2 separate regions of the Homo sapiens genome follow, and region 1 is linked to region 2. The links come from fine-mapping of genetic effects on gene expression. A gene starts in region 2. The other region holds a variant in brackets. All regions are shown on one strand. Distances are between the middles of the regions.

Region 1 (4,396 bases), 67 kb after region 2:
GATACCTTACAATGGTAACGGATAGGGGTGAGAGTCTCTGTCTCTCTCTCTAACTGCCCTTGCATGCATGTTTCCTGCATTATGATTGCAATGTTCTGCCTAAGTTCCCCTTCTCAACAATCCAGATAAGAAGTAGGGCACTCCTGCTCTTCAATTCTCAAATTTATTTGCAGATATAGAATAAACACAACCTCTATTTTGACCTTGGGAGGGACAAAGGCAGGATCCCACTCTCTGTCCACATGGGAACATTCTTACTCTCCTCTTCCAATCTTTAAACCCTTTCCCCTAAACCATAAAGGAGGTTTATTATCTCTTTTCTGTGCTACCAAAGGAGAAGATGTGTGTAGTGAGGAGAGTCAGAAATGGACTCTTCCTCTACTGACTTTCCAGTCCAACATTACATTTTCTTGCTTCGAGCTTTATCTCAGGATAGTCAAAACTTCTATCCTTATAGGAATTTATTTACTTTGGAAAATCAAAATAATTTTTCTTTCTCTTGTAGTGGAAGGCATTCTTTCTGGTATGTTTTTTCGTAAGAATTCATTCAGAATTCTTTCATCTGGGATTGTAGTGCCCTCTCTTTTCAGAGGCAATTGAAAGGCTTTTTTTTTTTTTTTTTTTTTTTTTTAGACAGAGTTGCCCCAGCTGGAGTGCAGTGGCACTATCCCGGCTCACTGCAACCTCTGCCTCCCAGGTTCAAGCGATTCTCCTGCCTCAGCCTCCCAAGTAGCTGGGATGACAGGCTTTCGCCACCACGCCCGGCTAATTTTTTTATTTTTGGTAGAGACGGGATTTCACCACGTTGACCAGGCTGGTCTCAAACTCCTGACCTCAGGTGATCTGCCCGCCTCGGCCTCCCAAAGTACTAGGATTACAGTCGTGAGCCACCATGCCCAGCCTAAAAGGCTAAGGCATTAAGGACCTCAGTGGCTTCAATAGGTAGAGGGGTAGTGGATAAATAAGAAATTGTATCTGTGTGAAAAACTAGTTAAGATCTAAGTTTTATTACTGTCTCCAAATATTCCTCTCATGGACTCTTTTTATGGGATGATAAATATTCTGCATATCCTACCTGGTTTCCTAAAAAGATGAACATATGAAATACGAAGTATATGCACTTAAAATTTCCCCTTAATTTTTTTTTCTTTTTTGAGACAGGGTCTCACTCTGCCACCCAGGTTGGAGTGCAATGCTGCAATCTAGGCTTACTGCAACCTCCGCCTCTCAAGCTCAGATGAGCTTCCCACTCAGCCTCCTAAGTAGCGGGGGACTACAGGCATGTTCTATCACGCCCAGCAAATTTTTTGTAGAGACGGGGTTTCACCATATTGCCCAGGCTGTTCTCGAACTCCTGAGCTCAAGGGATTTGCCCACGTGAGCCTCCCAAAATGCTCAGATTACAGGTGTGAGCCACCATGCCTAGCCTTTCCCCTGAATTATTTATTGCTCTGGTCTACCCTGATCCCATCTACCTCACTTTATTTGAATAATGGGAGTTGGGAGAAAGGCTAGAAGAGTAGCCTTCTGACAACTTCAAAATCAATATGAATGAAGAAAAGACATGATTTTCCTCTTTTCTGGTCGATATGCATTATAGTTTGGATGTTTGTCTCCTCCAAATCTTGTGTTGAAATTTGATCCCCAATGTTGGAGGTGGGGCCTAATGGGAGGTGTTTGGGTCATGGGGGTGGATCCGTTGTGAAGAGATAAATACCCTCCCTGGATGGGGAAGTGAGTGAGTTCCCACTCTTTCAGTTCCCAGGATATCTGGTTGTTAAGAAGATCCTGGCATCTC[C/T]GTGATTTCCACATCTGCCAGACCCCCTTCCCCTTCCACCATGAGTGGAAGCAGCCTGAGGCCCTCACCAGATGACTACTCTTCCAGCCAATCAGAATCATGAGCCGAATAACTTTTTCCCCTATAAATTACCCAGTCTCAGGTATTCCTTTATAGCAACACAAATGGACTAATATAGAACCTGAAACTCTAATGAACAGATTGGCAGTGGGGGAAGGATGAAAGATCTCACAACCTTCTTTCAGGTAGTGTGTTGACTCTCTTCCTCTTAAAAAGGAAGGGGGAGGGCAAATCACTATTGTTACCTTACTCCAAATTCCATCAAACATACAATTAATAGAAATGTCTAAAGTTCCTGCAAGTAGATTATCTGTCAGGCAGTAGATTGCCTCCTGGTCTTTTCAGGATCTTCCCAGGAATCTAAGTGTTAAGTTGGGTATGAGGAGGTTGCATTAGATATTGCTTCCCATTTTGCAGACCAGGAATTTTAATAGCAAATTTATTCAGTGTAATTTGTTTCTTGGTGAAGTTAAAATTCTGGAAACAGAACAACAACGTGACCAATCTGAAATAGCATTACCAAGGTAAGTTTTTGTTTTTTTTGTGTGTTTTTTTTTTGTTTTTTTTGGCGGGGTGGGGGGTAAGGAAGGGTTTACTCTAATGGTCTTCTTTTTGCTCTTTAACTGGTAATTATCTAACTCTGTCTTTGCACCTGGAAGTGAAAGAATTCAGCCTTATGTGAGGGAGAATGTCCGCCATGACCCAATTCTCATCCTCCACTGCATAACTCCTGAAAGCGCTGATTGATTTCAAAGAGAGTGCTGTAAAGAGATCCTCTGTGATGTGAAGAGAATTAGAATTGGGCACAAAGGTAGAAGTGTAACTGATGCTAAAAATAGCTCATGCTTTGGAAAGTTGATTAATCCAAAGAAAAGAAGTTATTAAAATGTTCAATTAGAATTTCTGCAGCTTGCAGATTCTATTTTTAATTTCTAAAGCATTACATATGTAAAATGCAGGAGGATGTGAATCTTACTAGGATCAGAAAACAGAGAGGAAAGGGCAAAAGCTTCCTTTAAGCAGCAAACATAGGCAGAATTTGATAGCAGTAGGAGTAATTATTACTGCAGGTGTCCTAGTCTGATATGTCTCTTCATTATTATGACTTTTTTTTTTTTTTTTTTGACAGAGTCTTGCTCTGTCACCCAGGCTGGAGTGCAGTGGCGCAATCTCGGCTCACTGCAAGCTCCACCTCCCAGGTTCACGCCATTCTCCTGCCTCAGCCTCCTGAGTAGATGGAACTACAGGCGCCCACCACCAAGCCTGGCTAAGTTTTTTGTTTTTTTTGTTTTTTTTTTTTTGAGTAGAGACGGGCTTTCACCGTGTTCGCCAGGATGGTCTCGATCTCCTGACCTTGTGATCTGCCCGCCTCGGCCTCCCAAAGTGCTGGGATTACAGGCGTGAGCCACCGCGCCCGGCCGACATTTTTTTTTTTTACAACTTGTATTTCTTTAGAATTCCAGAAATTATTTTAAACATGAATTTTATAAGTTTGATATCCTAGTTTTGAAATAACATGACATTTATTCTTATTATATACGTCTTGAGCACATTAAACAAAGGAGCCATGTAACTCTAAATATTAATCAGTAATATAAAAATCAAATCACCCCTGGAAATAGCACAATCATCTATATACGGTGGCTCAATCTAGAAACCTTAGAGCCCACTTGATTCCTTCTTCTCCCTTATTCCCCACAACCAATCACCAAGTCCAGCAATGTTGCCTCTTTAATAACATTCAAATCAATCTACTTCTCTCCATCCCCATGGTTACAGCCCTAGTCCAATCTATCAAAAGCACTTGCTGAGACTATTCCGATAACCTCCCTACACTTCCTCAAACCTACTTGTGCTCTTCTCCAATCCATTCTCTATTTTAGGGTTACAGTAATGGATCAAATCCACATCTGATTATTTTATCACTCTTCTTAAAAGCTGCTGCTGACTTTTCCCTACTGTTGGGTAGAGTCCAGCATCCTCAATAAGGCTTTAAAGAGTCTGAACTATCCACTCCCCTTCCTAACTCTCCACCCTCATTTGAGTGTCCTTCCCCTTACTCTCTCTGCTCCACCACACTGAACTAGTGATTCCTTGAATTAATAGATACCATCTTCTGAGTGGTTTTTCACATGTTCTTTTTTTTTCTACCTAGAATTTCTGCCTCCCCTCTCTTTGTCTAGATGGCTTCTATTCATTCTTTAGATCTGTTTTAGCATTCAGGAAATCCTCTATCACATGTAAAAGATATATGTCCTATAGATCTTTATAGCATTCAACATACAATAACTCTTCATTTAATTTCTCCTTATCCTTCTATAGTCTATGATAGCAGTGATGTGCTTGTTATTTACTCAGCACATTAGATATAATGCATGGTGAATTATCTAATAGTTATTTACTGGATGAATGATTGCATGAGGTGACATATAGAAACTCAAAGAAGAGGGTCTTTCTGTGTGAAAGAGAATGAAAGGCAGAAAAGCCTCCAGAAGGAGTTACATTTGCGATGGTTCTTGAAAAATAAATAGATATTTT
Region 2 (4,396 bases):
TATAAGTGTAGTCTTTTTCTGCAAAGTACTTCCTAATTAGAAAACAAATCAGACATACAAATGAGGATTAAGCAACAAAATAAGACTAAGTATGATTAAGTTCCCAAGTGAAAATAGTCTACTAGAGATTCTGAAGAGGAGTGATCGTTTTGTTAGAACCATGAATTTTAAAATGCATTTAGTTGATACATACCTATGTATTGTTATTATTACCAGTAGCCCTGTTTATTAATGACCCACTATGCGCCCATCCCCATGATAGAAACATGCATGCTTTTTATGGCCCTCATAGCAACCTGAAATTTCAATGCTATAAAATTCCTTTTGAAGACAAGAAAACAGATTCTCAGAGTTTAATTATCTTGCTCCAAATCAGATCATCAGGAAGTTGCAGAGCAAAATTAAAAGCCAGCTCGCACTGCCTATGATGGTAACTTGGTAGATTAAATAATTTATCTTCAAAATGACTTGGCAAGTTAGAATTTTGTTCTTAAAACACAGAATTAAATTTTGTAGGGATACATGTCAGACTAGAACCGAATAAACTTGGTTTATATTGTTCCTGGTATCAACATTAACCACATTTTGTTGCCAGGACCAAAAATCCTGGGAAGCTAAAAAGTATTCTATTTGAGGGGAAACTGCTATGCAGTATAATTACACGGCAGGTTGTTGGAATATTAAAGTTTTCAGAAGACTTTCAACCAATCACTTGTGTCTTCTGAATCTTAGTTTCTTCATCTGTGAAAATGGAAAGGTTGTCATCAGGAATAAGTAATTTCAGGGAATGGCAAAGATAAATGCACATACATCAATCTATAAAAGAAAGTTCACATAGTACAAATAGATGTGATATGAAAAAGCAGTACAAATTTAAATATCAGGTCCACATGTAAAATCTGTACAAAGAAATACCTCACATCTACCCCCGCAAGGGTTCTAGCAGTTCCTTAGTCCTGGAAAGTGGGTGGATCCATTCCCAGATCCCCAAATGCTGTTAGCCATAAGTTACCACTGAAATAAATTTACTACCAAATAACCAAACCATTATGCCGAGTCTAATAAAATATCCCAGATACGGCATGTATTAATTTGATTTGCGTTACACTTCGGGCTGGTAAGGTTCATATGTACACTTAGAAACCGAAAAATGCGGCGAAATGGATGAAGATTATATTGGCACTCTAAGAATGTTTGCAAAATACTGAAATATTGAAAACATGAAATATGACATATTGAAAACATGAAATATGAAATATTGATCTTTACGTGAGTTACAAAAACATTATTTCACGCAGGGTTTCAGCAGTCTGAATGCTTCTTCTCCGGCTTTTCCCCCAATGGAGAATTGGATTCCCTTTTGCCCCGCCCACTCAGTGCTTCCAGATTGCTTGAGAAGGCCAAGGCAGCCGGCTCAGCAGCAGGGAAGCCGGGCTGGGTATGCAGGAGCTATATATAGCTCCACCTTGGAGATGTGCACACACAAGCACACGTACGAATACCCATGCCCGGTTTGGCATGAAAATAAATAAATAAATAAGGAAAGGTCGCAGCTATCCGCTTTCCCTCTTTCCCATCATCCCAATTTTTCAGGAATTTTCAAAGCAGGGTGTCATCAGTCCCAGAGGGTGATGCAGCGTCGGATCTCTCTGCAATTCTTCTGCCTACTGCTCCCAGCAATCTGACTCCTGCAGGAACCGGCACTGGGCCAACACCTACTACCCAGATGCGGTCACCTAGGGAGGCAGCCTCGCAGCCGCTCGGAGCCCATCCGGGCACAATCACTTGACTCCCTGGAAATCCCTGAAGCCAAATCCACCTTTCAGAAACTAGGTGTGAAGGTGGTTCCCGTAGACAGCGCCAGGCTAGGAGGGAAGGGGCCGTGGCTCCGCGGTCTCTCCCTCCCACCTGCCGCAGATCGTGGAGAAGGGCCGGTGCCTTCTCAACGGAGACGTAATTAATCGGAACGTGCCCTTCGAGTTGCAGGGATTCTTCCCCACCCCCATCTCCTGAAGGGAGCTAGATCTTAACAGAGGGGTCAGGGGACAAACAAGTCGCTTCCTCCCCTCTCCGCAACCGCTCCCAGGTTTTCCGGGATGCGCTAGCCAGGCGCCCAGGTGGGATGGGAAAGATGAGCAGGTGCGGGCCGGCGTCGGGAGAAAAAGACCTGCAGGCCCCGGGCTGCCGACCTCTCTGCTTCCCCACCCCTCCCCTGCCGAGGCGATATGGCATCCCTGGGGCGAGTTCCCGGCGCTGGCGGCGGCAGCCTCCGAAAGGAAAGTTGACGAGACACAGACCCCGAGCTCGGAGCCCTCTTCTAGGGCACTGCCGTCCTGCCTTGCCCGGCACCCCAGGGCTCCGGCATCCCGCACCCCTGCTTCCCCGCACCCCAGCCACCTCCGCCCCAGTCCTTCCCGCGCCGCACGGCGAGAGCTGCAGGGACCACAGGAGATTTGGGGGTGACGAGGGCTGGGCGGGGCTGGGGGAAGGGAAGCAACAGCATGGAAATGCGCATTCTTTATTTTATCTGCAAAGAAGGAAAAGTCCAGCTTCCTACCTGTTCCCTGCTCCTGCTCGCCTCGGTGCGGCACAGCTGGACCATACCCTACAGGTTTCCCACTTCCGCTGCAAACACCTGGGAGCGCATCTCCCCACCGGCGCCCCTCCTCGCCTCGGCGGAGCCCACCCTGGCTACTTGACAGCAGAAGCCCGGCCTTTTAGGGCGGTTATTGGGGCAGCAGGGAAAGTGGGGCGGGGACCACAGGGAAACCCGCTTCTCTGATTGGACAACAGGGATATCACTCTCACCCCCAGGACCAGCGCAGGCTGCAGACTTGGGTAGCTGCTAAACCCAACTGCAAAGGGTCTCTGCAGTGCCTGAAACCCAAACCTGCTGCTACCGGATCAAGGACCCTTGCTGGAGAGAAACTGGTTTGATGACTTGTCATTTGGGGCCCCAAGAGGGAGGGAGGGTCCAGGCATAACTAGACACCCAGCACTTTCCTGAAGCTTCCCTGAAGGGACCATCTGCTCCGGGAGATTTGTCAGGCGAAAATACCAAGCCAGCGCCTCATAGAGAAGAATGAGCTTCGATTAGGAAATAATAAGATACTTATGTGGGAAAAAATACACACACAGAAAGGAAAATAAAACGATGTGAGGTTTTTTTTTAAAGTTTCCATTTTTGTCCAGATGTAACATGGCAGTTTTTCTTGAGAAAAGACGGAATTGCTTAGTCTGTAATGCAGAAGACCCCCTAATATTCCCTGGTAGAAACAGTGTTTTAAACGGGAAAGCACTGCATAATAACCTCTCAAAAAAAAAAAAAGGGTAAAAGAAATTAAGGCCAAACTGCATGAGAGATTTGCTTTGGGGCAGTTCAGTTTGTGGCAAAAGTCTTAAAATAATCACCATTAGACTGATTGATAATTAAGTGATCTGTTACTTTTCTATTGATAGTAGTTTATCATTTCTTTAGTACTCAGACACTGAGAGGATGTTTATGCCCCCAAACCTAAGTGATCCCAAGCCTGCCTTTTATGTGAAGGGAACAGGGTAAAATAACTTTGTGTCCAGTTGCCATCTCTGCCATTTATTCAGGTGGAATCTGGAAATTTTGGAATTCAAGAGACTCCTTAAATGAAGGAACGTGCTAGAACTACCACGTGTAAAACTGGGAGTGTAGGGTGTCTTAGTATATAGTACCATGTGAGGAATCAAGTTGCCTTCTGCCTGCAAATAGCCACATTCTTCTTCTATCTGAATTAAGTAGCCATCTTAAGTGCTGAGCATAAGACACAACTCTCATTCTCACAGAGCTTCAAAGAGCTTATGACAGGCTTGGGACACTGGACAACTGTTAGAGAAGATGACATTGCTATTAATAAATATAGACTCTACTTAGTGGTTACGGTTGTTATTACTATCATCAGGTAAGGCTCTTCATAATGTTTTCTTCATAATACTGAAGGAATCCGATTAATGCATTTGAAGGTGGGGGCCGGGCGAGGTGGCTCATGCCTGTAATCCCAGCACTTTGGCAGGCGAGGCAGGCGGATCACAAGGTCAGGAGATCGAGACCATCCTGGCTAACACGGTGAAACCTCGTCTCTACTCAAAAAAAAAAAAAAAAAAAAAAATACAAAAAATACAAAAAATTAGCCGGGCATGGTGTTGGGCGCCTGCAGTCCCAGCTACTCAGAAAGCTGAGGCAGGAGAATGGCGTGAACCCAGGAGGCGGAGTTTGCAGTGAGCGGAGATTGCGCCACCGCACTCCAGCCTGGGCGACAGAGCGAGACTCCGCCTCAAAAAATAAAATAAAATAAAATAAAATAAAATAAAATAAAATAAAATAAAATAAAATAAAATAAAATAAAATAATAAAATAAAATAAAAT

Evidence for each region. PIP is the estimated chance that this variant, and not a neighbour inherited with it, causes the effect.
Region 1: its variant is the best candidate, but not a certain one, in a credible set for the expression of CNTN1 in aorta (GTEx, PIP 0.71).

The regions. Positions count from the first base shown.
Region 1 is chr12:40,623,438-40,627,833 of GRCh38, reverse strand. No RefSeq gene overlaps it. Among named protein-coding and RNA genes, the nearest start is that of CNTN1, 67 kb to the left of the region's middle. The variant C/T (reference allele first, on the strand shown) is at 1,799.
Region 2 is chr12:40,690,754-40,695,149 of GRCh38, reverse strand. CNTN1 (contactin 1) reads right to left here and starts at 2,711. Exons shown (of 24, transcript NM_001843.4): 1 at 2,558-2,711.